Homo sapiens: one gene and its partners. The protein of the gene in region 4 purifies or fractionates together with the protein of the main gene of each other region. This does not show direct contact. Each region holds a gene or a part of one and is shown on either strand. Other genes may lie near its edges. The genes, in order: ZDHHC6, MYO1B, HMGA2 and ROR2.

The links.
Region 1: the proteins of ROR2 (region 4) and ZDHHC6 purify together in Homo sapiens (affinity purification with mass spectrometry; one large-scale study listed by BioGRID and IntAct). This does not show direct contact.
Region 2: the proteins of ROR2 (region 4) and MYO1B purify together in Homo sapiens (affinity purification with mass spectrometry; one large-scale study listed by BioGRID and IntAct). This does not show direct contact.
Region 3: the proteins of ROR2 (region 4) and HMGA2 purify together in Homo sapiens (affinity purification with mass spectrometry; one large-scale study listed by BioGRID and IntAct). This does not show direct contact.

What each region holds. Positions count from the first base shown.
Region 1 is NC_000010.11:112,435,607-112,441,334, forward strand, and holds part of ZDHHC6 (palmitoyltransferase ZDHHC6), read right to left. Parts: intron 5,090-5,728; coding exon 4,928-5,089; intron 4,047-4,927; exon of another isoform or gene 3,900-4,046; intron 2,784-3,899; coding exon 2,730-2,783; intron 1-2,729. UniProt on the Homo sapiens protein: Endoplasmic reticulum palmitoyl acyltransferase that mediates palmitoylation of proteins such as AMFR, CALX, ITPR1 and TFRC.
Region 2 is NC_000002.12:191,411,635-191,417,362, forward strand, and holds part of MYO1B (unconventional myosin-Ib), read left to right. Parts: intron 1-2,413; coding exon 2,414-2,546; intron 2,547-2,882; coding exon 2,883-3,035; intron 3,036-4,480; coding exon 4,481-4,608; intron 4,609-5,728. UniProt on the Homo sapiens protein: Motor protein that may participate in process critical to neuronal development and function such as cell migration, neurite outgrowth and vesicular transport.
Region 3 is NC_000012.12:65,836,459-65,842,186, forward strand, and holds part of HMGA2 (high mobility group protein HMGI-C), read left to right. Parts: intron 1-2,060; coding exon 2,061-2,111; intron 2,112-5,728.
Region 4 is NC_000009.12:91,749,926-91,755,653, reverse strand, and holds part of ROR2 (tyrosine-protein kinase transmembrane receptor ROR2 isoform 1 precursor), read left to right. Parts: intron 1-5,728. UniProt on the Homo sapiens protein: Tyrosine-protein kinase receptor which may be involved in the early formation of the chondrocytes. It seems to be required for cartilage and growth plate development. Phosphorylates YWHAB, leading to induction of osteogenesis and bone formation.

The DNA of each region.
Region 1 (5,728 bases), on a different chromosome or scaffold from region 4:
GATATTAAAGTTAACTATTTACTAAAATAATTATTAAGCTATAATGCATATGAATCTATTAAGTTATATAAATCCATCCTCCCCAGAAAGTAAAGAATAATTTCATTTTCTTTTTTATAAACACAGCTTCAGAGTCTTCAAAATGGACTGAATTTCAAAGAAAAGAGTTCTAGGCTATTTACAAAGAAAAACTGGTAAATATAAGAGAATTTATAAAATGACTAAGACATGTCTTTGCCTAACAGAAACACTCAATGAAGTTAGGATTCTATCAATATTGTGTGTTAAAAGGTGATGAAGGGGTGTGGTAGATGCTATGGGAAAAGGGAACAAAGGAAACAAAAAGTACTTAGCCAAGTCTAGGGAGTATCCAGGAAGGGTCCTTGGGAGAAACAATACCTTAACTAAGTCTTGAGAAGCAAGAAATCAGGCAAAAAGAGAGGGAAGAGCATTCTAGGCAGAGGGAACAACATGTGCAAGGATACAGAAGCATAAGATGTACAAACTATGAGTAATTTAGTATCAAGTGTGAGACAGGGTAGAGAAGGGTAGGAAATTAGGCTGGAGAAGTAGATAAAAAGAAGTCCGCCAGGTGCAGTGGCTCACGCCTGTAATCCCAGCACTTTGGGAGGCCAAGGCGGGTGGATTACTTGAGGTGAGGAGTTTGAGACCAGCCTGGCCAACATGGTGAAAGCCTGTCTCTACTAAAAATACAAAACTTAGCTGGGCATGGTGGCATACACCTTGTAATCCCAGCTACTTGGGAGGCTAAGGCAGGAGAATCACTTGAACCCAGGAAGTGGAGGTTGCAGCGAGCCAAGATTGTGCCACTGCACTCCAGCCTGGGCAACAGAGCGAGACTCCGTCGCCAGAAAACAAAAAAAGAAGTCATAAAAGGTCTTACTTATGTAGAAGCTAAGAAGCTCAGACTTCAACCTGTACATCAGTGGTTCTCAAAGCATGCTTTATAGATCACTTTGAGTATTCAGGACTTTTTCTTGCTGGTCAGCAAGGCCAAGCTATTTTCATAATAATACTGAAATGTTATTTGTCTTTTTGTTGCATTGACATTTGCAATGGTGAATAAAACTGTTGGCATCTTAGCAAAAACCAAGGCAGTGGCACCAAACTGTGTTGGTAGTCATTATGAGCAATTCCATGTAAGAATGTCCTTGATGAAGCAGTAAAAATTGTTTTTAAATATTAAATCTCAACTCTCAAGGAGATGTCCTTTATTTTTAACAGTCTGTGTGACAAAATGAGAAGTATACATAAAGCGTGCCCAAGTAGAATGATCATCTCAAGGAAAATAGTTGTTAAGCTGTAAGCTAACAAAAGCTGTAGAGCCAGCTTTTTTAATGTAACACTATTCTTATTTGAAAGAATGAGTAATATAGCAAACTAAGGTTATTCAGACTTCAGGACTTGGTGAACATTTTCTCAAAAACGAACAGTCAGGCAGTCACTTCAAGGGAAATGACTGACAGTATGGGTTAATAGTAAAAAATTAAGGCTTTCAAATGTATACTAGAATTACAAAAAAAAAAACCTTGTATCTACCACTGTGAGCCTGACAGCTTTCCAATACTTAAGGATTTTTTCTCATAAAAATGATATATTGATATACGTGAATGCAATTTTGGGATATTGTATAATGAAAGGTGTTTAACGTTTGCAAAATCTACATAACACAGTAAACTAGTATTTGCCAAATGACCGATGCCTGATGTTACATAAAACCACATACTGGTAAAAGATTAATTCAAAGAGCAAGATAGACTGATGAGTTTTAAAATAAAAAGGTATAAAAATCTTATTGATAAGAAATATCACTTGTCAAGTTTTCAATGTAATACGGAAGAACATCCACTATTATCATGTAAAAGGCCTATTAAAATATTCTATCCTTTTCTACCTACTTATCTGTGTGAGGCTAGATCTTCACATACTTCAATCGAAGCAACATATCTCAACAGACTGAATGCAGAAGTGAGAATCCAACCATCTTCTCTTAAGTCAAAGATACTAAAGAGATTTGTAAAGATATAAAACGATGCTATTCTTCTCCCTATTTTGTAATTTGGAAATTGTGAATATTCCCCTGTGGCAACAATCAGCTTGGTCTGCCAGGCAATTCTTTGGTATACAGGCTTGCTCCCCTTCATGGACGTTATCTGCCCAGACCCTGCAGGTATTTGGGTTTCAACCCCTGCCACAGGAATGGTGAGGCTCTGAGAAGTTTTAAACACAGAGCAGGGTAGTCAGATTTGTGTTTCATGCTAGAATCACAATGGACAGTATGAAGTATTGGACATTGTGAGGTCTGTGACAAGCAAAATGTTAGGAGCTTCATTGAATGTCTAAAACACTGAGAAAAACCTGATGGCAGTTTGGTAGGGTGGAAGCTCCTTTCCAAATGGGCTGCTTTCTCCTCTAGTCTAAGAGACAACAAACAGATGGTTTGACGTGTGGCTTAGGCCTCTGCGACCACTCAGGGTGTATGAGAAGCACCTTTCTGTGGGAGTTACAGAATGAACAAAAATGTTTCCTATATTCACCTTTTATGTGGCATGCAAATGACTTACGGTAGCCATTTGGCAGCCATGTTTTCACTTTTAGGCACTTTTCGTTAATCCGGTCTAATAACAGACTTTATTAATATTCAGGACTTTACCAGTCCTTTATTAATATACTTTTTTAATATTGAAGAAACAATTATTAAAATTTACCTTCTCTTCAATCCATGACTCAATAGAAGTTTTGTTTCTGAGAATTATTTTCATCTGGAAATTAAATGATAGTAAAATTTAATAATGCGACCTTGGTTCCTTTAAGATTATCATATTCATAATTCTCTGAGATAGCTTTTATTACTCCATTCCATAGACAAAGATACCAAGGATAACAGAGGTTAAGTACCACAATTACCATGTCATCCGTCTGACTCCAAAGTCCTTGTTCTTAACTACTGCACCACGGTACCTCTCCGTAACAATGATTACACCCATCCATAATCAAATCTGAATCTAGTATGTTAATCAAACTTTATGTCATAAGTACTATTTTCAGAGCAAGGTTTAATAAAACATTGATATAATCCATTTAATCAGTGCTTACTTATAATTTGCTATTAAAATCTTTTATCACTATTTTTAACTAACTTTAAATTTACGATTAATCTATTTATGAGAAGTAACAGTGACTCATTTCAGTCAACCTCAATATTTCACTTGCCTTAAAAATAATGAATGTATTCAGTCTTTATTCTATTATTTGATTTTCCTAGATATGACTGATTCCACATATATAGGCTTTTATATTATAGGATCTTAGTTTATTTCTAATATGATTCTAAATTAGAGGCATTGGGGAAAATTTTTCAAAGAATTTGGTCCCAGGCTAGTAGACGATAATAAAGTATAAACAAAACCAGATTATTTTAAAACCAAGAGTTCCCTTAAAGTCTGGCTGTGCCTTCAGAGAGACAGTGTAGTATGTTAGAAACAGCCTTGGTGGAGGCTGCAATAAGCCGAGATCGTGCCATTGCACTCCAGCCTGGGCCAACAGAGCCAGGCTCTGTCACAAACAAACAAACAAACAAACAACAATAAAAAAATAAACAGCCTTGGCCCAGGAGTCCTCATCATATTCCAAGGGCCTAGCATAATACCTGGCCCACAGTAGGCCTTCAATGAATGAATGAATGAATTACGTGAATGCAATAAGTCATAAGAATGGTTTTTGGGCCGGGCACAGTGGCTCACACCTGTAATCCCAGCACTTTGGGAGGCTGAGGTGGGTGGATCACAAGGTCAGGAGTTCAAGACCAGCCTGGCCAAGATGGTGAAACCCCGTCTCCACTAAAAACACAAAAATTAACCGGGTGTGGTGGCAGGTACCTGTAATCCCAGCTACTTGGCAGGCTGAGGCAGAGAACTGCTTAAACCCGGAAGGCGGAGGTTGCAGTGAGCTGAGTTCACGCCATTGTTCTCTAGCCTGGGTGACAGAGTGAGACTCCGTCTAAAAAAAAAAAAAAAAAAAAAAAAAAAAAAAAAAAAAAAAAGAATGAAAAAGAATGGTTTTTGGTCCCTTCAGAGCCAGGTCCTCCTCCTCTGTGTTCTCATAGCACTGTGCACATAAATCTATGATGTACATATGGCCCTGTATTAGTTAACTGTTTAATATTAACTGTCAGTTCCTAAGGGCAGCTACCTCTTCATTATCATTTATGCAGCCTTAGAAATTAGCAAAGTGATTCATCAGAGTAGGCTTTAAATAGCATCTTTATCATAGGGCTGTTATGGAGATTAAATGAGCTAATACATGTAAAGTGCCTAAAACAGTGCCTTACACATAATAAGTGCTCAATAAATGTTAGCTATATTATGATTACTATTATTAAATATATACTATTATAAAATAACATTAGTGTTTACCAAGTACATGAATGGGTGACATTGGGTAAGTCACTTAACCTTTTTGAGAATCAATGAATTAATCATCTGTCGGGAAGGGAAAATGTTTACCAAGTACATGAATGGGTGACATTGGGTAAGTCACTTAACCTTTTTGAGAATCAATGAATTAATCACGTGTTGGGAAGGGAAAACAGTAAGACTCCTCTATTGGGGTGGATGTGAAGAGCAAGAGAGACTGTACAGGTGAGAAGAGCTCTCTCAATTCTGAAGTGCTCCAGAACTTACCTAACTTGAAGTTAGCATTTTAAAAACTAAATCAATACCTAGAAATTCTGGCAAAATTAAATCAAAATTATCTGACGAATACAAAGGAGATTAGTTACCTAAATGAAATAAGCAAAAATAATTTCCATTTCATACTGGACACTTAAATACAGGCTTTGTCTCTTTCTTGTGCAATCAGTCCCAACAACTTGACACTTTTGACTTGAGGTAATTGAGATGCTTACCTGGATAAAAAACAACATCCCAACAGCTATGGTTGTTCCTAAAGCTAATCCCAAGGCAAACAAGGTGGTAGCAAATGCAGCTAATCCAAATGGAACAATTGGAAGAGGATCTCTCCGGGCTGCACTCATGTCGATCTTCACTGTGTTCCACCCAAAGGAGAGCTATCGCAGCAACAATAGCACACGCACAAAATGTTTGGTTATGGTAACTGGTCAGACTCTACTGTGACACGTAAAACAACTTGATCAAAGAGATAACAACGTGGCCCTGTGGCCAACGCAAACACAGCTATTTTTATTTTATTTTATTTATTTATTATTTATTTATTTGAGACGGAGTCTCACTCTGTCGCCCAGGCTGGAGTGCAGTGGCACGATCTCGACTCACTGCAACCTCCACCTCCCAGGTTCAAGCAATTCTCCTGCCTCAGCCTCCCGAGTAGCTGGGACTACAGGCATGTGCCATCACACCCGGCTTATTTTTTATATTTTTAGTAGAGACAGGTGTCACCAGATTGGCCAGGCTGGTCTTGAACTCCTGACCTTGTGACCCACACCGCCTCAGCCTCCCAAAGTGCTAGGATTACAGGCGTGAGCCACTGAGCTGGGCCAGCTATTTTTAATTAATATAGTAATGAGCTCGGACCGATGTGCAGGATATCATTCTTAGTTTTCTCAAATGTTACTTTTTGTTGTTGTTGTTTCCTCAGAAAGTGTCAAGGAGACCTTACCAACATTAACATACATAAACAACACTAGACACTAATCTAAACCAGAACTATGTCTTTTCTCTTCTCTTGC
Region 2 (5,728 bases), on a different chromosome or scaffold from region 4:
GTTGCTTGAGCACTGGTCTGTGGTGCCCTTTGGTCTGCTAACTCAACGGATATGACTTCTGTGGCCTGTACAGCACGTTCAGTTCCTTTATTTTAGACACCGTGGACTCAGAAAAAGAAGGAACACCAATCCCAAGTTCAGCAAGTGAAGTCCTTGGTAAAGACTGTTTATCCCAATAGTCTTACATCTCCTGCATTCATCACTTCCTCCCAGCAATCTAATCCCATTTTCATCTGGTGTTTATAAAAAAGTAGATTGTACAATTTCAAGCCAAATCTGTAACAACTTTAAGCTTCTTCCAATGAATGGCCAAAGAAAGAATGTATTATATGCTGAGTATATTCACATTTATTACGTAAATTATGTTTATATTCTCTGTGACTTTATACACATTTAAAATATCTTCCTTTTAAAGGATTAAAGGAATATACATTGCCAGACTCACTGGGTTTAAATATTTTAAATTGTACAACTTCATTGGTTAGCTGATGTGGCTACTTGAGGTGATACATACTCCCTTAAGTCAAACACAGTGTCTAAATCCAAAGTTGTCCAAAGTGCCTGTTATATAAAGCATATTCAAACAGGAGAATTTGTCTGTATGCTTGCTTCAGCAACTAATTTTATTCAGCTTTTTTTTTATACATTTTTAAATTAGGGAATAACCTTCTTAATGAACATTTCCTGTGGATGACTCTTCAGAAACTACAGGCTGGAAAATACATCTTTGAGGAAACAATTTAAAAGCCTGTTAGCATTTTTATAATTTAAAACACAGTTGAATAGGAACCAAAAAAAGTTAACTTCAAGCCAAGTCCTTTTTGGGTAGTCTTATCAGTTTTCAGGGATAGTGGCACACTCACCCCACAGCAGTGAGAGAGGTGGAATAATTTAGCCTCCCACCACCCTGCAAAGTGGCAGCTCTTATGGGAGTTGGCCTTTTATATCCTGAGAGCTGTGAAACGCTGACCACCTACGTGGATTTTTCTTCCCTTATCCTCCACCCACAACATAAGCATTTAAATTTGTATTTGCAAATTGCCAGAACTTTGTAGCTCAAAATGAAGCTTATAGATTCCTTGAAGCAGCAGTTTTTCCTTGGTGCCTTTGATGAACCTGTCCTGAAAGAGTCCCCCGACAAGTCTTTAGGGAAATTGATATCTTAGTGATAAGTGTACAGTTAACCTTTTACAAAAATTAGTTTGTTTGGGAAAAAAAAAATTGCCCTGATTCTGAATGTTTGCTTTGGTTACTTCTGTCCATTTAGAGGCATATTCTAGGAGAAGAGGCTTGATTCTCCTTTCATATACAGATGCTGCTTAACTTATGATGCAGTTACACACAGATAATCCATCATATGGGTTATGAGTGATTTCTATCTTGATTGTTCCATGTGATGAGATTATTATCAAAGTCCTGCCCACCAAATGCCATGATCACCTCAAAAATATATTTGAAATAGGTTTAAGGTTTCATTTCCAACTTATATTTAGGACAGATGCAAGCGTAATGTATAAAATAAATTGAAGTCAATTTTTATGAAGTTGTCATATGTCATATGAAGTTGAAAATATCATAAGTTGAAAATGCATTTAATACACCTAACCTACTGAACACAATCACTTAGCCTAGCCTACCTTAAACATGCTCAGCACACTTACATTAGCCTACAGTTGGGCAAAATCATCTAACACAAAGCCTGTTTTATAATAAAGTGTTGGATATCTCATGTGGTTTATTGACCACTGTACTGAAAGTGAAAAACAGAATGGTTTATGAGCACCACTGTAAAGCTGAAAAACCCTAAGTCAAACCAAGTCAGAGACCATCTGTATTGCCTACTTAGAACCACAGTTACATGTTAATATTAAGTGTTCTATAGTTTTCTTCTAAAGTGATTGCCCTGGATCTGTTCTTTCCCAGAAGGCCTATTGATTTTCTTATTCTCTGCAAGAAATGAAATTTTTCTTTAGAGCAGGTGATGGTAATGATTTCAGCTCTTTTCACTGCCACATATTGTTTGAAGGCGTTAGTAAATCCTTTGTGAGCAGCTGTTAACTTTATATTAACAGATTAGAAGAAATTGCCTTTTCCTTCACATGAGGCCATGTACTTGAGTCTTAGCTGTTGTTCTTATGAGTGATTTCTGTCTTGATTGTTCCGTGTGATAAGATTATTATCAAAGTCCTGCCCACCAAATGCCATGATCACCCCAAAAGTGTATTTGAAATAGGTTTAAGGTTTCATTTCCAACTTATATTTAGGACAGATGTAAGTGTAATATATAAAATAAATTGAAATCAATTTTTATGAAGTTGTCAGCTACTCCTTAGAATCAACTGACCTGTTTCCTTTTTTTAGTGGTACTTTCATTTGAAACTATTTCTAATGTGCAGGAATTTTTTTCCTTTAGTGTTGGGCAACCATTCCAAGGGGCTTACCTGGAAATCAACAAGAACCCCAAGTATAAGAAACTCAAAGATGCCATTGAAGAAAAGATCATCATTGCTGAAGTCGTGAACAAAATTAACCGTGCTAATGGGAAGGTAAAAATGCTAACCTTGAAGACTGATAAGAAGTACCTATTAGTTGGGATAGTCACCCTGTTTTCTGAATGTAAAAATTTGCATTTCATGTTCTCAGTAGAGTTAACTATGAAGGCGGCTATTTCCCCTTACCTTTAAGCTTAGGTGGAATTTTGCTTGTTCTCTGACATTTTTATGAAATAAAACATATTATTTATGTTCTTTACTGCGTTCTTGGTTTACATAGGTATGTTTGTTGAAGGATATTGGAATTTTTGCAAATAATGCCTTAAACTCATGGACCATTTTTGAGTATTTGTGATCATTGGTTTTATACTATTTTTTATTTTGATTTAGAGTACATCTCGGATTTTCCTCTTAACAAACAATAATCTCCTTCTTGCTGACCAAAAGTCTGGACAAATCAAGTCAGAGGTTCCATTGGTGGATGTGACCAAGGTATCAATGAGCTCACAAAATGATGGCTTCTTCGCCGTCCACCTCAAAGAGGTAAAGGTTCAACAGAAGATTTCTGTGCTTAATCTCTCAGCCATTGATTTAAAAAATTTCCATATCTGATAATCCTATCGCAGTTTATATATCTGCCTTGCTAATTTGCAAATTTTGGATATTCACCCCTATGTAAAATCTCCGACTCAGTTTTTCAGTAATTGAATAAAGTTAATCACTTTTATTGGCCAGTTTACTTTACTTTTTGAGACTAATACATAGAAATATCAAGATGTTTTAAATTTTGTTTTCTCCTGTTTTTTCTTCTATGTATCAACTTAGTAAATGTCTTAATGTTCATCTCTAATCTGGGGGTTTACATTAAAGGATACAACTAAAATAAAATAACCGCCAGTTAATTTTAACCTAAATAATTTTTAGTGTTCTGTGCCTTTAGCTTAACCAGGACTCCTGGCTTGGATGCAGTGGTTACATGTAGGTTCTGGAGTTGGTCTCACTCACTTTATGATAATTTTGGCCAAGGCATTTAATTTGTGTGTGCCTACCTACTTTTTCTCATCTTTAAAATGGGGATAGTAAGAGTGCCTACTTCATAGCATTGTTGTAAGGATTAAGGATTAAATGAGACACTGGAGGAACAGGGCCTGTCACATAACACATAGTCACTGAATAAACAAAAGTTAACAAATATTGATCATATGTAGGGACATGTGTCTAGCTAATAATGTTACTCTCTGGCCAACCCTAAACTTAGAAAAATCCCCAAAGCTTCCCTTAGCCTGTTTACCCTACTTTGGATCTTAACTTAAAGGGGGCATATCAAATACTAGGACAGTGATTCTCAACCTCAGTGACACATGTAAACAGCTTGGGAACTTTAAAAATTCTGATGCCCAGGCCATACCCCTATGAAATCAAATTAGAATTTCTCAGAGGGGGCACAAGCATCATGTTTTTTTTTTTGTTTTGTTTTGTTTTTTTTTTGAATAAACCCAGATGATTCCCTTGCACAGCTAAGGCTGAGAGCCACTGCCCTAGGATATTTGTTGGAAGTGTTGTCATTAGGGTTTTAACCAAATCACTGAAAAGTTTTTTAATCAAGTCCTTCAGAAGAGTTGCGGGATAGGTCCATGCTCCTCAAACCTGAATGTGTAAACCCATACCTGGAGGTTGCGTTGTGGTTTCATATTCACTGGGGCTGTGGTAGGGCCTGAGATTCTGCTTTTCTAGCAAGCTCCAAGTGATGCACATGGTGCTTCTGCTGCATCCACCGACTTTAGGTAGAAGGGGATTAGGTAACCTTACTAAAGTGCTCTGAGCAAGTTGGAAGAAACACTGCTTTTGTCATTATTGTTTACCTTGGGAGAATGGATTCCAGGATCTGATGTTTTAAAGAGACTGTAAGTATGTTTTTAGCCAAGCCTGTAAATATTGACCTTCTAAGGTATCTTTAATTATGACCGACTCTTGGTTTGTCCTTGCAGGGCTCAGAAGCAGCTAGTAAAGGAGACTTTCTCTTCAGCAGTGATCACCTGATTGAAATGGCCACCAAGCTCTATCGCACAACTCTCAGCCAAACCAAACAGAAGCTCAATATTGAGATTTCCGATGAGTACGTTCATGTATTGTTTGAAAACCCTTTTTCTCTTTCAGCTTTTTTGTTTTAGTTCAGCTCTCGATCTCATTCATTAATACAACTACTTATTAAGTACCAGGTATGTGTCTAGTAGTTGTTCCACATGATAAATGGGCAGTGAATGACACTGACCAAGTCTCCAACCTCATGTACCTGACATCCTAGTGGAAGAGACCAGTATGTACAAATAAAATGATGAAATAGTTGATAAGATTTTGGCTAACAAGTGTTTATGGAGGAAAAAAAGGGTTAAGAGTCAGAGAGTAGGCCAGGCGCAGTGGCTCACGCCTGTAATCCCAGCACTTTGGGAGGCCGAGGCAGGCGAATCACGAGGTCAGGAGTTCGAGACCAGCCTGGCCAACATGGTGAAACCGTCTCTACTTAAAATACAAAAAAAATTAGCTGGGCGTGGTGGCGGGCGCATGTAATCCCAGCTACTCAAGAGGCTGAGGCAGGAGAATCTCTTGAACCCGGGAGGCGGAGATTGCAATGAGCCGAGATCGTGCCACCGCAATCCAGCCTGGGTGACAGTGTGAGACTCCGTCTCAGAAAAAAAAAAAGAGTCAGGGAGGCCTCTTTGATGTGGTGACATCTGAGACTGGTATAAATTTGAAATTTGCTTCTTCAATTTCTCATTAGGGTTCTGAATATAGAAGTTAGTTATTTGCATACAGGTTGGGGCATCCCCAGATTTATTGTATCTATCTATGTAAGTGTTTTGGAGAAATCTGAGTTACTGTGTTGATTATACTTAATTGGTTACCTTTCAATAGATTGTTTACCTGCTTATATACTTCTTTGCATGTCTAGATTGCTCAGGAAATTATATTCTTTTCTAATTAAGAATTTTCTAGTCTATTCTGTTTCAACTCTTCCTAAAAGTCTTTCTAAAATAAATTTACACCCATTTCTGCCCCTTTGTAAGTCAGACTCTCTTTGATATGTTAGGATTTTGCAGTGCTGTGGGCTTTTCTTAAGTTCTCATTGAAGTGTTTAGATTTGGGTGGGAGGTTGGGCTTCATGTATACTCTATATTGGAAATTGCTGTTCGGACTAAATAACTTTTCTTGTTAATGAGATCTTTCTCATAAAGAAA
Region 3 (5,728 bases), on a different chromosome or scaffold from region 4:
TAAGTACTTCTAGGAATGATGTCTCACAGGAGGAGTCATCTCCATTGCACGGATGAAACCAAATTGAGGTCTTCAAGGACCTGCCCAAAGTCATAAAGCTAAAATGGAAGAGCAGGAATTGGAATCTAAGCGTTCCAAGGTAGAGTCTGTGATCTTCTCAGGGCACCTCCCTCTCCATGAGGCAATGCTCTGAAGAGGGTATTATTTACTTGACACTCTGGGCTTTCGCTAAATTCATGCCCTTGGGACTGAAGGTAAGACAATGCCACTAACCTCTGACAACAAATGATTCCTTTGTGGAGCCATTCAAAAGTGATAATAAACAATGATTCAGAGTGTCCAAATCAGATGGTTAGATAGAACCCCTAAAGGCTACCAGGTTTTCTTTTGTCCTGGGAAATTAACTGAATCAGTGACAATTTTAGTTTCCTAAAGTATTTTTTTATGGTAGCAAATGCTTGTATACTACCGGGTAGTAGCATTGTTAAGAGGCTAGGAGCACAGTCTTTACAGTTAGACAAAACTGGGTTCAAATCCCAGGTCTGCCACTTACCTGCTTTGTTTGTGACCTTGAGCCAGTTGTATACCTAACCTATCTAAGACTTAGTTGTTCATCTACAAAATAAGAGGAATAATAATACCCACTTTATAAGGCTGCTGTAAGGATTAACGTAACACATGTGACTGACAATCGAGTGCCTGGGATATTTTAAATGCTCAATATTTGTGAGTTAACATTACAGTCATATAGAGTTTGCGTTAATTCATGGGACCTGTTGGATAGTAATGCCAGATCAGGGAGATACTATTTGGTGAGAAATGTTGTGGCTTATTTTATCTCTCATCTACCTGTCTGTCTATCTGCCTATCCATCTATCTGTTTGTCAACTATCATGTAAAGCTATTTGTTTTTACCAGGCAGATTGAAGAGAAAAAGAGGAAAGTTTCATTTGGCAGTGTAGACAGTCAATATCACTGTACCAAGTACCCCCACCGGCTGCTAACTCAGATAACAAAAGTAAAATGTGGAACAAGGTATCCTGGTTCAAGTTACCTGTATTTGTGTGTTAATATAGCCATGGATGATTCTTATACATGAAACAATATGTACTAAGTTTTCTTTATCCTAAAAAGCAGGAACACGTTTTTATAGATGTATGTGATATGTGTGTGTATTGGTGTGTTGTTGTGTATGAAGATTGGACTAGGGCTGACAAAAACGGAAAAACTAATTGCTTTATAAATAATGTTAACAACTGTGATATCAGAAAAATCTTCTGTGAAGTAAAGCAATGAAATAAACTCTCAAGATAGAAATGTATTCATGTTAAGTGTGGGATTATGGTTAATAAAGTACATTTTTAATTAATCATTATTTCTAGGCACATATAGTTTTAATCACTGGGACAAACTGATGATTTCTGCCTGCTTTTTTTTCCTCTGCTTTAGGTGAACTGATTGACAGGTGATTGTTTCAGGCAAGGAACATTAAATTAAACATGTAGAAGTGTGCAAATATTTGTTATTTTGAATTAGAATGCTTGTGTATTCTTTTTCACATTTATACTTGCTTTTGACTACCAATATAGGTAGAAGAGCTTTGTAAATTGTAAAGTAATATGTCAATATTAATTTTTGCAACTTTAGTTGTGACATGGAAAGAATCTTGATCATCTTAAGAAATATTAATTTTCTAAAATACTAACTTATGTAGTTACAGAATGTGGGGATAATGTTTTTAATATGGACAGAAATAAAAGCAAAATAGCTTTTGAAAAAGCATTTTCATGTATTTCAGAAGAGATCACTACAGGGGGTGTCTTTTAGGGCGAGGGGTTGCATAGATACCTCTTTACATCATGCAATGAAGAAGAATCTACTCAGAAATGTGGAAAAAGATTAACCTTAGAGGAGACGAAGTTTGTTAAAAAAAACAAAAAAAAAAAAACCGATACGTCATCTGCAAAGCAGAACATTCTTACTTCAAATGTGTCCCTTGGTGCAGTACTTATAAACAATGTCAGGTAGAAAACTATAATGACTTCCTTTTTCATTTGCAGAAAGCAGAAGCCACTGGAGAAAAACGGCCAAGAGGCAGACCTAGGAAATGGGTGAGTAATAAGATATAATTTTTCTTCTTTTTTTTAAAGAAAAATTTCTGTTGTATTAAATGAGAAAAGTTTTATTTCGTCGATTACATGAATTTCCAACTTCTGGTTTGATGAATCTTTGAAAGGGTTAAGTCAAGAGACAAATTATCATCACTTCCTACCACTAGGCTCCAGGTGTTTACGTAGAACACTTTTCTTTCCTGAAGGTGGACTCATTTTTCTATCTCTTATCAACATCAAAAGAGGCTCCACTCTTCCTTCAAATAGGGTAACAATGAGATGATTTGTTCAGTAGATTGAGTAACTAAAGTTAAAGGGTATTATGAAGCCTTGGAAGTTGATTACAAATGGTGTTAAAATTCATACACAATGTGTATGTGATAACTTTTTAACGTTTTTCTTTTTTCTTTTTCTTTCTTTTTCTTTTTCTTTTTTTTTTTTGGTTTTCTCCATGGCTTTTGTTTGGACACATCTCATTTTCTAGATGGTTTGTGTTTTCTTTTTCACATGGCTTTGTTAGGAAGCAAGGGTTTATTTTGAGTTTTTCTTGCTTCCCTTAGTAGTCATTCTCCACATGCAAACATTAGAGATAGCTGTATCCATACAAGTGCACCTGATCCTATAGGCACACAGATCCTGTATCTTTTGAGGCCAGAAATTCAGTGGTCACTGAAGAGCTTTGCTAATTTTACTGCTTGAACTTTGTTCCCTTGTTTGCTGTGTTACCCATGTTCTTCTGGTCTGTCTTTCCCACTGACGGAGAAAAGAAGTCCTAAAAATGAATGAAATCGTTTCTCAAGAAGGATGAGGGCATCCTTTATACCCAGTGTTGCATATGATGGGTTCTTTGGCTTTGCTTTTTCCTCTTCCTCAATTCTTTCTTCATGCTTCAAATTTTAAAAAGATTTTTTTTTTCTGTTATGCTGGATTATATGTTCCTGTTTGCCATTCCTTTCTCCTCTAGAGTTCTGCATCACTTTCTATTTATACTTTGGTATTGCCTTTCTTTTAATTTATTCATCTTATATTTTTCCTCTGCTCAACATGTGTTGGGATTAGATTTCTTAGCATAAGGAAATGGGATGATCTTTAGATGAAAAACATCTCAGTGTTAAAATGTGACCTTAAAGTAAGGATATTTCATTCAACCTTCTGTTCATTAAATTAGTTCTCTCCAAACCTACTTATCAAGTGGTGATCATCTAGCGTGCTTGATTACCTTTAAAGTTAGGGAACTTGCTACCTCTCAAGGCTGCCTCTTTCTTCTAGGAAAGCTCTGCACATTAGAAAATTGTTCCATCTGACTACCTGTAACTTCCGTCCACTGTCTCTAGGTCATCCTTCTGGGAATATATAGAGTAATTGTTTTCACTTTCACTCATGATAGCCCTGCAAACGGTTGAGGGCAATTAACACATACTGTTTGTATGTATCTGTGTTTGTATGTAACACATACTCCAGTTTTCTCATTTTTTCCCCATAAAGGAACATTCTTGTTATTCTTTTCTGAACATGTTTGTTCGTTAATCTTTTGAAAGATGTCACCTAGAACTAAATATCATATTTCAAGTGTGGGTTCCATAAACAGTGGGTTTATCACCTTCCTTGTTGTACATATGGTTCCAGTTATCGATTGCTGCATAGTTAACCACTCTAAAACTTAATAGTGTAAAAAAACTATTTTATTATGCATATGGATTCTTTGGGTCAAGGATAGGCAGGGTAGAGCAGAAAGTCTTGTCTCTGCTCCATGATGTCTGGGGCCTCCACTGGGAAGACTCAAGCATCAGGGGATGACTTTAATACTTGGGATCCAGAATCTGGAGCTGTTTCACTTACAAATCTGGTGCTTTATCAAGATTGGCTGGAAATCTGGGCGGATCTGGGAGTGCGTGCACTGGATCACCCATACATGGCCTCCCCAGGATAATCAGGCTTCTTACATGCACTCAGGACTACCTCTGGGAATTTTCTGGTAACTGAGGAGGAAGCTGCAAGGCCTTTTTTGCCTTAGACTCGGAAGTCAAAAACTGCTGCTTCCATTATACTCTAATGAGCACATTGTTGACTAAGTTGATACTGGCATACATATCAAATAGAGATCTGCTGTTTTCTAAGCATCAGAACTCTGAAAGGACATCCCATACCATTGAACTAATTAATAAGAAAGACGTGTATAATCTTTCTAATAGGCAACATAATAGAAAATAGATGAGTTCTTTGAAGCCATGGGATTAATGTGGCTAAAATGAAATTAAATTGCAAGCGAATACAGTGGCAGTTAACCAGCAAACTAACCTCCATCATATGGGGCCTCTTAACTCTCTCAGCCTTTCATCTCCTCTGCCCTTGGGCTGTCCTATAATGGTCACCAATTCACCTCCATAGGTTAGAGTCCTGTCTTCTCCGAACCTTCCTATGGCTCCACATCTGGCCAGCTAGTTAATTACAGCCTGCCCTAGTACTTCGAAGTCATTCAGTTTACATCTACCTTTCTTTACAGTTTTCTTTCTCACCACACATCCTTAAACAGTTGATGATTCAGCCAAGCAGGAGTAAACTATAGAGCAATTAAAGGATATATATGTTTTTTTTCTTAACGGATTCTTGCTAATTTAGGGGGGATCTGGATTTCAGGCATCAGATCTTCCTGCTGGGTAAGAAGCACATGTGAGGCCCCCACCACAGAAATCCTTGCCTTTCTGAGAATAGCTGGGCCATTTTCTTTGACTCTCCTGGTTTCTAATTTTTACTGGCTGTGAGAATGGAAAATATTATGTGGTGAATTGTTACAAGTCCCTGATTTGGTCCCCAAAGAAGAGTTGTTCTACTGAGAAGAGGAAATAAAAGGAAATTGTATATTTTTTCTAGACAGTGTGTTTCCTCTTTGCTTGTATATCTTCTGTTGGGTAGAGTATGCAGCCAGTCACAGCAAGGCATTCCGTTCAATGGCATTCTTTGCTGGAAAGCTTGTGCTGAAGAAATAAATCATTGCGTTTTCCATAGGAAATGGGCTTATACTTTATAGCAAGTTCAATTCTTTCCAACAGTGTCATTCACCGATTTCCTTGAGTTAGAGATATATTTTTGAACCGACTGGATTCATTAGGTATATGGGTTAGAAGCCAAATTGTTCCCCTTTTATTCTTGTGGGATATTTTGCTTTGTTTTAAAGTTCTTGTGCTTCTAAAACTTGTTCCAGTAGATATTATAGATTCATGTAAGAGGCCTGGGAAAAGATACCTACCGAGGAATCCTCTGATCTGATGTAATTGGGATCCATATGGGTAGGTGTGGGAGAGAAACTTGCATCAGTCTTGCTTTCAGAGGGGATGAAGCATTGGCCAATTCAGTGATCTAACGAGTGTGTTAACTAGATTTGCTTAAGAACACTTCTATTGTTTACTTTAATTCCCTTCATCTTTTTTTTTTTTTATCCCCCTAGTTTGAACTGGATTTCAGATCTATTGTTTTTATGAGGTGGTCTGATTTTCATGTGTGTGCGTGTGTGTGTAGAAGAGGCTAGAGGTAAATTGGGTCTCTTTTTTTCCTGGCTTTTTATAGTTAAGAGCTCAGGCTCTGGATTCAGATGGCTTGGGTTCAAATTCTGGTCCGTC
Region 4 (5,728 bases):
GTGGGTGGGAGTCTCAACCCCACCTTGCAGATGAGGAGACCGAGGCTCACAGCCAGGCTCACACTCCTTCACGAGCTGCTGACAGCAGTGGCTTTGAACTCAGGCCTCTGGTTTCCCAGTACGAGGTTATTCCACTGTGGCCAGGCTGTCTTGGGAGAGTCCCCTCTGAACTGCCCACACTCTCCCATCGTGTACCCAGAGGAGTGCTCATTCCATTGCCGGTGTTTGAGATGAGCAGTGACTGTCCGGGTTTCCTGCATTTCCTCCTCAGACATATTGGAGAGCAGTGCTTCACTTTGAGATGTTCTGAACAATAGCATGAACACTATATGGTTGGTAAAGTGTGCAGTGTTGGCTGATTTCTGTTTCCCTGGGCCTTGTACCCATTACCCACCCATGATGTGCTGCAACACCACGTTGGGAGGCTGGGCAGGGCAGCGACCTGTCTCAGCAGACATCAGCAGCTTGCTTGCAGAGGGCAGATTTTTTTCCCCCCCCAAATAGACAGGCCTGGCTTTTCACCCAGACTGGAGTGCAGTGGCACGATCACAGCTTACTGTAGTCTTGTACTCCTGGGCTCAGGCCATCCTCCCCCTTCAGCCTCCCAAGTAGCTGGGACTGCAGGTGCGTGCCACCACACACCCGGATAATTTTTTCTTATTTTTTGTAGAGATGGGGTCTCACTATGCTGTCCAGACTGGTGACAAACTCTTGCCTCGAGCAATCCTCCTGTCTCGCCCTCCCAAATCACTGGGATTGTAGGTGTGTGCCACCACACCTGACCTAGAGGGAAGATATTTGGGAAGATTCTGTGCTGAGCAATAGTGATGGAGCATTTTTCCTTAATAGTCCTTCAGACACAGAGTAAGGAAAGAAGAAATTGCATCATGAGCACAATTATGGGGCTTTGGAAAAAGGCATATAAGTCATTTCAAAAGTTGAACTATTGTTCTCTCTTATTTTATATTTATGTCTTTTATTTTAGTTATTTTATTTTTTGAGACAGAGTCTCGCCCTGTCACCCAGGCTGGAGTGCAGTGGTGCAGTCTCCGCTCACTGCAACCTCTGCCTGCCAAGTTCAGGCAATTCTCCTGTCTGAGCCTCGAGTAGCTGAAATTACAGATGCGCACCACCATGCCCGGCTAATGTTTGTATTTTTAGTAGAGACGGGGTTTCACCATGTTGGCCAGACTGGTCTCGAACTCCTGACCTCAAGTGATCCGTCCACCTTGGCCTCCCAAAGTGCTGAGATTACAGGCATGAGCCACTGCACCCGGCCTATATTTATGTATTTTATAAATAAAACTTTTATAGTTCATTTATATATAGTTACATAAATATATTATGTAACTATATAATATATTGTAAATACATAACATATAATTACAGAGCTATAATTATACAAATATTAAACATTCATATATTTATATACAAATTGTAAATATATATATTTATATAAATTATTTCACAATATTTTTACATTGACTTTCTTCTCACTTTAAGTTATGGATTTAATCCACACATTGATGTAAATGACTGGGGCAGTTTCGGAAAGTCCCGCCTGACCTCCCATCCTTCCAGGCCTCCTGCCTCCCTTGTCATAAAGGTAAATCATCCAGGGAGTTTGTAGGCACTCAGTACATACATACATCTACCTAAGGAAATACAAAACAATCAACTTGAAAAAAGGTCTAAAAGCACATAAATTACTCAGTATTATTGAGGCAATGAAGAAATATGCTTACCTATACACTATTGATGAGAAATTTCTGGAGTGCTATTTGACAATAAACACAAAAATATTTTTAAAAAGAAATACCTCTTATCAGTTTTATATACTTTTTTACATAAATGATGCTATACTTGACATGTTTAGTTAACAGTATTCACAGAAATCTTTCCATCTCAGTGTATTTGAGGTTTCCAGATGCTCTCTTTCCCTGTTTCTGGACTCATGTGCAGAGCATGTGACTGTTCCATTGTGACAGGCATTCCCATCAGGGAAGCCTCATCCCAGCCACTCGTGCCACCGCGTCTCCCTTCCCTGGCCCTGAGACCTGTGGCTGGGTTTCTCTAGGAGAGATTCTGAAGAGGAAAAACTAAAGGGGCACAGGCATCCCCTTTTTAAAACTGATACTGCCAAATGGTCATTCGTAGGTTACTTTCCCGACAACGTCAAAGGACCCATTTCTCCTTATCTTCCATAAGATGACTTCCAAACTTGTTAACTTCTGCCACTCTGAAGGATGAAAAATGAATAAATGACCTGCTTTGTTCTCCATTTCCCTGGTTACTAGTGAGGCTGAGCATGTGGACACACATTGCTTGGCACTCATGTCTCCTCTTTGTCAATTGCCACTTCATATTCTTCGCTCATTTTTCCTTTACATTGTTTCTTAATGAATTTTGATAATTCTTTATGTCTTATTTCTTGATCATATAGAAATTAAAACTTTTACAAATTAATAATTTGTTTTTCATGTTATGTCTTGTTAAAGAATGTCATGATTTCCTTGAAAGATTCTGATGGTAGTTTGATTGGAATTACAATGAATTTTTAGGTCAGTTTGGTGAGAATTAATATCTAAATTGAATTTTCTTATCAAGGACTACTTTCCTTTGTGTTTTGAGGTGTTTTCTTTTTCTTAACATTTTATAATGAAAAATTTCAAACATACGGTTGAAAGAATTTTATAGTGGGCTCCTGTATACTCACCAGCTAGATGCTAGCATTTACATTTTACTGTGCTAACTTTATCACTTATCGTTCCATCCAGCCTCCATCTGTCCATCAATCCATCTGATTTTTCATTCATTTCACTGAGTTGCAGATACTTGTACATTTACCCTGAAATACTTCAGCATATATATCATTAATGAGAGTTCAGTATCTGTTTATGATTCTTGCTCCTCCTTCTTCAGTTAAAATTTGCATACCAGTGAAATGCACACATCTTAAGTATAGCACTATAAGGTCTGACAAATGCATAAATCTCTGCAATCGAAACACCCTATCCAGATACAGAATCTCTGTCACGCTTGCAGGCTCTGTCGTGCAACTTCCTAGTCAACTCCCTTCTACCCCAGGCACCCACTATTCTGATTTTTTAAGTAATGGACTAGTTTTTCCTGTTATTAAACATCACAGAAATGAAATCCTTCAGGATGTAGCCACTTAAGCCTGGCGTCCTTTTAGCATAGTGCTTTTGAGATTCATCTGTGTTGTACATGTATCAGTAGGTTACAGCTGTTTATTGCTGAATAGCATTTTATGGTATGAACATACGCGTTGATTTATCCATTCTCCTGTTGAAGGACACCTAAGCAGATTCCAGGCTTGACTACTATGAATAAAGTTCCTTGTATAGGAATACTCTATACTTTTTGTGGACATGCATTTTCATTTCTGTTAGTGTTAACTAGGCGTAGAATTGCTGCATTATAGGGCATGTGTGTGCTTAATTTTATAAGACATTCCTGGGCCTTCTCCTGAACTCTTTTTACCTCCACCCACAGTGTGGGAGACTTGTGATGACTCCACATATTTCCCAACATTGGTGTGGTCAGCCTTTTTAAGTGTAGCTATTCCGGTGTATGCAGTGATTCAAGTGATTTTTTATATCATTCCAGCCTCTTGAAAAAGCAATTTTTACTAGTCATTTTTAAATTTTCAAATAAATGTATTTAAAGCTGTAAAGTTTCCTCTGAATACCATCTCCCTGCTTCCACCACGCATTTAGGCTTCTGTTGTTTGATACTGTTTTCTGATTTTTGTTGCATTATTATTAGTGAATATGGGCTGTTTATGTTTTATTCTTGATAATTTATTGAGATTTTTCTTTGTAACCAGTTAGATACGGTCCATTTTTGTGAATCTTGCCTGTTGTTTCAAAAATACGTGTGCTTTGATGTATCTGCACATTTCTTGACTCATCTGTGAGATTGAGTATTAAGTATGTTATTAAAAATATCTATATATTTTTTATCCACATGAGTACCAGATACCTGAAGATTTGTGAAAGTCACCCACACTCAATCTGGATTTGCTAGTTTCTATTAGTTCTCTATTTTTAATATTTTGTGTGTATTTTAAGGTTATATAGGTTTTTGTGGGGTTTTTTGGTTTCTTTTTACAGTCCCTTTTAGTGCTTTTTGCCTTGAATTCAGTTTTGCCTAACAATAATAGAGTTCCACATGCTTTTTAAATTTGCATTTGCCAGGAACCGTTTTTATGATTCCTGTCCCACTCTTTAGTCTTTCACCTTTTTGTGTTCTGTTTTATGTAGGTCTCTTGTAAATGATGCATAACTAGACTTTTTTTGGGAGGTTGATGTGGAGACCTTTCCAGTCTGAAAGTCCATGTTAATACATAGTTAAATTCATTTTAACTAATATACAGTATTCCATTCTGTGAGTCAGTTTCCACTTGAATCATGCATTGACTGCCGAGTGAAGGTTAGTTCTTTTCACTGATAGGGACCCTCTTATAGTGACTGTGCATCCCAAGTCTCTTTGTCCCTATGGGTGAAAGTCCTCCAGGGACAGAGATCAGGAAGCAGGATTACGGGTGTGCATCTCCCACCTCTCCCAGGAATGGCCAGATTGCCCTCTATGATGGCCAAGTCATTCATAGCCTCACCTGCAACACATGAGTTATTATTTCCTCATGTTTTCTAGCACATGGTATTATCAGAACTTAAAATGTTGCCAGCATCTTAGGTGTCAAATAGTAATTTTACATTACATTTCACCAGTAAATAGTGAGGTTGAACATCATTTTGTCGTTCTAAAAGCCATTGCATTGCCTGTGTGTATCCAGCCTATCCTCATTATTTTCAGATTCCATATTTGCAAATTTGCTTATTCACTAAACTTCGTGTCCCCCAAATCAACACTCGTGGTATTTTCATGGTCATTCTTGGACATGCACAGAGTGGAGAAAAACCTGAGCTCCCTGACACATGTTTCCAGCTGAGACTGAACCAAACTACACTGCCTTCTTGTTCTAGTCCTCATACTGTGAGCACATATCCTTTCTGTCTACTTAGTGTCACGTTTTTCCTATTTGTGTGCTTTCTGTTGGTGATTCTGCTGTTGTAAATGGCTCCCAGGCGTGGCGCTGAAGTGCCATCTGGTGTCCCAAGTGCAGGGAGCTGTGATGTGCCTTACGGAGAAGATGTGTTGTTAGAGGCTGTGCGTTTTCCACGAATCAATAATATACATCAAATAAGATGTCTTTAACCAAAAATGTACATAAAACAAGATGTGTATTGATTGGTTGAAGCAAATGTTTTAACCAGAGGCTCTCAGAAAACTAACTGTATTTTCCCTGGGAACAGTGGCTCAATATTCACTAATTCAGTGTTTGTCGTGACATTATAGAAAATAACTATGGTAGATAACTAAAATAGCCTGCACTTTGTCCATGTTTCTGTTAGGATATGTGTTTTTCGGCCGGGTGCAGCGGCTCATGCCTGTAATACCAACACTTTGGGAGGCCAAGGCGGGTGGATCACCTGAGGTCACGAGTTCAAGACCAGCCTGGCCAACATCGTGAAACCCCATCTCTACTAAAAATATAAAAATTAGCTGGGCATGGTGGCACATGCCTGTAATTCCAGCTACTTGGGAGGCGGAGACAGGAGAATTGCTTGAACCTGGGAGGCGGAGGTTGCAGTGAGCCAAGATCACGCCACTTCACTCCAGCCTGGGCGACAGAACAATACTT